Regions from separate parts of the Homo sapiens genome. Here region 2 is linked to region 1. The links come from fine-mapping of genetic effects on gene expression. A gene starts in region 1. The other region holds a variant in brackets. All regions are shown on one strand. Distances are between the middles of the regions.

Evidence for each region.
Region 2: its variant is fine-mapped to the expression of RSL1D1 in whole blood (INTERVAL, PIP above 0.99).

What each region holds. Positions count from the first base shown.
Region 1 is chr16:11,849,912-11,852,820 of GRCh38, forward strand. It overlaps RSL1D1 (ribosomal L1 domain containing 1), which reads right to left and starts at 1,631. Exons shown (of 9, transcript NM_015659.3): 1 at 1,497-1,631; 2 at 368-507. The coding sequence starts at 1,601. RefSeq lists enhancers at 793-1,992, 1,765-2,299, 2,300-2,833 and a silencer at 1,561-1,747.
Region 2 is chr16:12,115,626-12,118,534 of GRCh38, forward strand. The region is part of intron 11 of SNX29 (sorting nexin 29); the gene reads left to right. Among named protein-coding and RNA genes, the nearest start is that of SNX29, 140 kb to the left of the region's middle. The variant C/T (reference allele first, on the strand shown) is at 1,648.

The DNA.
Region 1 (2,909 bases):
AGACATCTCCGCTCACTGCCACTCTCCTGCCTCAGCCTCCCGAGTAGCTGAGATTACAGGCACCCGCCATCATGCCTGGCTAATTTTTGTATTTTTGGAGAGACAGGGTTTTACCATGTTGGCCAGGCTGGTTTTGAACTCCCGACCTCAGGTGATCCGTCCACCTCGGCCTCCCAAAGTGCTGGGATTACAGGTGTGAGCCACCACATCAAGCCTCTATGGTTCTTTTGGACATAGTTGTTTTACTTCACGTCAGATTTTTATTATAAGTTTGCAAAGTTTCCATTAGTAACCATGATGCAATTGTTCGAGTTACAAAGAATAAACACACAGATAAAAACAGCAAAGGTAGAAAATCACAACTTACAATCTGACCCTCAGTTCTTTACTTGGAATTTTCCATAATACCACCATTAAAAATAAACTTTCATTCTCATTCAAAAGCAACCCATAATTGTTTTTCCTGGACTTGCAATGCGTCAAGAGAGCGTCCACTGCCTTTCTAACCTGCAAAGTGGAAATTAGACAAATAAGTGAAATGTTTTCACAATAACTTACACAAATAAATGAAATGTTCTCAATCTAATTTAGCATTTGCCCCCTCCCACACCTTCTATTTTTTCCCTTCCAACTTCTATTTCAAGGGGTAACCTCCATAACCGTATCTATTAGGATCCTGCAGTTTATATTCACAGAAATCTAAGAATCCATCAAACATGCCTAAGTACCCACTTCCAGTACTGTGTGCAGAAGGGCACCTCTTCTACTTAAAGAGATTGGGCTAGAGGGAAACGTGCCCCTCCTGCCCTCAATGATGAAAGCAGTAATCCCAGGAAAAACGCAAAGCAAAATGCATTTAGCATTTACTGAGAACTCCTGGCAATTCTCCTGCCTCAGCTTCCCGAGTAGCTGAGATTACAGGCGCCCGCCACCACGCCCACCTAATTTTTGTATTTTTAGTAGAGACGGGGTTTCACCATGTTGGCCAGGCTGGTATCGAACTCCTGACCTCAGGTGATCCACCCGCCTCGGCCTCCAAAAGTGCTGGGATTACAGGCGTGAGCCACCGCGCCCGGCCTACTGAGCACCTTCTTACCATGTACCAGGCCAAAGCGCTTTACACTCATTACCTCTCCCGATCCTGGATAACGGGGAGCCGAAGGGCCCACTTTAAATAACGGGTAACAGACCTGCAAAACTAAGCGATTCGGTCAAGCGCTAATGATAGGGAAGCTAAGCCAGGTCGCCAGGTCTATCTCATCTAGCTCCACAGCACACTTGCAACCCAATTCACTAGCGCCAGGCCGCAGGACCAGGGAAAGCAGGCGCCCACCCACGTGTGTAAAGGGGAGAGACAGCTGAGGCACACGGCCCGCCAGCGACCGTCCCACAGCCCCGGGGAAGTCCGCCGAGCACGCACTCGGGTTCCGGCACCCTGCGCCTCACGAGGTAACCGCCACACTGCTTCCAAGCCACCCTCCCCAGGAACCACTCACCTGTTCTTTATCCAGCTGCTTCCGTGCTGTCGGGGCCGCTGGAGTCGAGGTGGAGGTTCCAGTAGCGGCTGCAGAAGACAGCGAGGCCGAGGCCGAATCCTCCATCTTGTTTCCACCTCGTGAAGAGGCGCGTGTGCAACCCCACTGCTGGCTTCTGGTGCGCACGCGCGAGCAAGCCCGGCCCCGGAAGCGAGGGGGCGGGAACCGAGCCTCTGTGCGTCATTTCCGGGAGAGCGTGGGGTTTCGCTCTCCGGGGCAGTGGCTGCTGTCAGAATCCCTTCTTTGAGGAGGCACCTGCTCTTCCGCTTTTCTCCAGCTTTCCATGAGCTGTGGGGAGTAGCTTGGGTGTCCTCTCACTCTTACTAGATAGAAATCAAGAAAGCGCCTTGAGGCGAGAGAAGAGTCCCGTCAGGAGGCCCAGTGGGGTCCTCCACACTCCACGGTCCCCGCCTCCGGGAAGGCCGCGCGTGGCATGGGCAGAGCGCGGAATCCTGGCTCCACTGCCCACCTGCCCGTTGACTTTAGGCGACGCCAACCCCAGGCTGGTGAGGAGTCCCTGAAATATAAGGCACGGGAGCCACCCGGAGCCACCCGACCTGCCACGTTAAGCAGCATGAGGGACCGAAAGATGAGTCTGGGCCAGTCTCTTAGGAGCTTCTGGTCTCGCAGAGAGGCGGGAGGTAAGATCCTGTACAAATAAGCGTGGCTGGTCGTGCGCGTGGCTGGCGTCTGGAATCCCAGCGCTCTGGGAGGCCGAGGCGGAGGGATTCCAGGAGTTGGAGACCAGTCCGTGCATATACGAGACTCCGTCTCTCCAAAAATTATAAACATTAGCCGGCGTGGTGGTGCGCGCCTGTAGTCCCGGCTACTTGGGAGGCGGAGGATGGAGGATCTTGAGGAATTCGAGGCTCGGTGAGTTCTGATCCGCGCCACTGCACTCCAGCGTAGGCAGTAGAGTGAGACCTTGTCGCTAAACAAACAGGTTAGGAGTGGAGGCTGGATAACTGACAAATGGAATACCTTAGAACAGGGGAGTCCAATCTTTTGGCTTCCGTGGGCCACACTGGAAGAAGAATTGCCTGGGCCCATATATAAAACTAATACTAATGATAGCCGACGAGCTTTAAAAAAAAAATCTAAAAAAAATCTCGTAATGCTTTAAGGAAGTTTACGAATTCGTGTTGGGCTGTATTCAAAGCCTGGCCTCCAGGGCCGCACGCGGCCCTTGGGTAGGACAGGTTTGCTTTGTAATGTCTTCCTCCCACTCCACCCGCCTCCCCAGAGGTACCCTTACCAGTGTCTCCTGGAACCTTCCAGAGATGTTCTAGGCATGTTTAGGAGATACTTCTCCTTTCTCTTGTTGGATGGGTTTAATTAATTTTTTTCCTTTTTTTTTTTTTTTTTTTTGTAATG
Region 2 (2,909 bases), 270 kb after region 1:
GCAGACCTACTGATTTTGTGTTTTGCAGTGAAGAATGGGTAGGCTCCACTATGCACGGTTTCACATTTATCTGGAGCCATCTAATTAACACCTGTACTCCACTTGTCACCTGAACCTGGTCCTTTGGCGGGTTTCTGCAATATGTTCCTCCTCGAGGCCTTTCTTTGTGAAACACATGTGTACCTCGCTTGCAGCTCTCTGCCCACTGACGGAGAAGTGAGTGAGCCTCTTGTGTAATTGATGGATAAGCCCTCCACTGCACCCCGCAAGAGGAGTATTCTTAGGGGAGCAGCTGTCTTCCTTTCCACCCTCGTCCCACTCTCCCTAACTGCTTTTTCAACTGGATCAGTAAGGATTTAGTGTTAAACAATATTTGGATTCATTGTGGTGAAATAATCCAAATTGACCGTGCCAGGTGATGGAGACAAAGATATCTGCCATACTAATTTCCAAACTCTCCTGTAAGTGCAATATAGTGATTTTGAAAAACTCTCTCTCCTAATTGTGGGAAACAGTTTGGTGGATCCTTAAAACGTTAGTGGAATTACCGCATGTCCCTGTAATTCCACTTCTAGGTACACATCCAAAAGAACTGAAAGTAGAGACTCAAACAGGTAACTATGCACAAAGGTTGATGGCAACATGATCACAATCTCCAAAAGGTGGAAACAGCTCAGTATAAATGTCCATTATCTGAAGAATGGATTAACAAATTGTGGCATATCCATACAGTGGAACATGATTCAGCTATAAAAGGAATGAGGGGCCGGGCGCAGTGGCTCATGCCTGTGATCTTACCACTTTGGGAGGCCAAGGCGGGGTGGATCACTTGAGGTCAGGAGTTTGAGACCAGCCTGGCCAACATGGTGAACGTCATCTCTACTTAAAAAATACAAAAATTAGCCGGGTGTGGTGGCGGGCACTTGTGGCCCCAGGTACTTGGGAGGCTGAGGCATGAGAATCACTTGAACCCGGGAGGCAGAGGTTGCAGTGAGCCAGGATCACGCCACCATACTCCAGCCTGGGCCACGGAGTGAGACTCCTTCTCAAAAAAAGAAGGAATGAGGCACTGATACATGCTTCAACGTGGATGAACTGTGGAAACAGGCTTAGTCAATACATGCTTCAACACAGATGAACCGTGGAAACAGGCTTAGTCAATACCTGCTTCAACGCGGACGAACCGTGGAAACAGGCTTAGTCAATACGTGCTTCAACGAGGACGAACCATGGAAACAGGCTTAGTCAATACCTGCTTCAACGCGGACGAACCGTGGAAACAGGCACGGTCAATACGTGCTTCAACGAGGACGAACCATGGAAACAGGAGTGGTCAATACGTGCTTCAATGCGGATGAACCATGGAAACAGGCGTGGTCAATACGTGCTTCAGTGCGGACGAACCATGGAAACAGGCGTGTTCAATACGTGCTTCAATGCGGACGAACCATGGAAACAGGCGTGGTCAATACGTGCTTCAGTGCGGACGAACCATGGAAACAGGCGTGGTCAATACGTGCTTCAGTGCGGACGAACCATGGAAACAGGCACGGTCAATACGTGCTTCAACGCGGATGAACCGTGGAAACAGGCATGGTCAATACGTGCTTCAATGCGGACGAACCGTGGAAACAGGCGTGGTCAATA[C/T]GTGCTTCAACGCGGACGAACCGTGGAAACAGGCGTGGTCAATACGTGCTTCAATGCGGACGAACCGTGGAAACAGGCGTGGTCAATACGTGCTTCAGTGCGGACGAACCGTGGAAACAGGCGTGGTCAATACGTGCTTCAATGCGGACGAACCGTGGAAACAGGCGTGGTCAATACGTGCTTCAACGCGGACGAACCGTGGAAACAGGCTTAGTCAAAGGAGCCAGGCAAAAAGACTCTATTAAAAAAGAAGACCACATAAGAGATGATTCCGTTTCTGTGAAGCATTGGAGTACGTAAATTCATAGAGACGCAATGTGGATCAGAGGTTGCCAGGGAGGAGGATGAAATGGGAAGAAATTGCTTAATGGGTAAGAGGTTTTGCTTTGGCGTGGTAGAAACGTTCTAGAACTGGATAGTAGTGATGGTTGCACAACATTTTGAACGTACTAAAGGCCACTGAATTGTTCACTTTCAAATGGTTAATTTTATGTGATATGAATCGTACCTCAGTACATGATTTTTAAAAAACCTTCAGTTTGGCGGGGCACGGTGGCTCACAGCTGTAATCCCAGCACTTTGAGAGGCTGAGGCGGGCGGATCACAAGGTCAGGAGATTGAGACCACCCTGGCTAACACAGTGAAACCCTGTCCCTACTAAAAATACAAAAAAACTTAGCCGGGTGTGGTGGCATGTGCCTGTAGTCCTAGCTCCTTGGGAGGCTGAGGCAGGAGGATTGCTTCAACACGGGAGGCGGAGGTTGCAGTGAGCCGAGATCCCACCACTGTACTTCAGCCTGGGCGACAGAGCGAGACTCTGTCTCAAAAATAAAAACAAAGAAAAAAAACTTTCAGCTGTGCCACCGCTCCCCACCCGCTTCTCACTAGCCAAGTAAGCCTTTCGCTTAGTTCCATTGCTTCTACTGCTGGAAGCAACCTCTGCAACTTTGTGCTTTTAATTCTGGTGAGTACTCCTTTAAAGCTAAAGTGCTCATGATGCCTTTTAAAAGAAGACTGTAGATAGTAGATATACAGACCACCTTTTTTTTTTTTTTTTTTTTTTTATGAGATGGAGTCTTGCTCTGTCACCCAGGCTGGAGTGCAGTGGCACCATGTCGGCTCACTGCAACCTCCGTCTCCTGGGTTCAAGTCATCCCCTGCCTCAGCCTCCCGAGTAGCTGGGATTACAGGTGCCTGCCACCATGCCCGGCTGATTTTTGTGTTTTTAGTAGAGATGGGATTTCACTGTGTTGGCCTGGTAT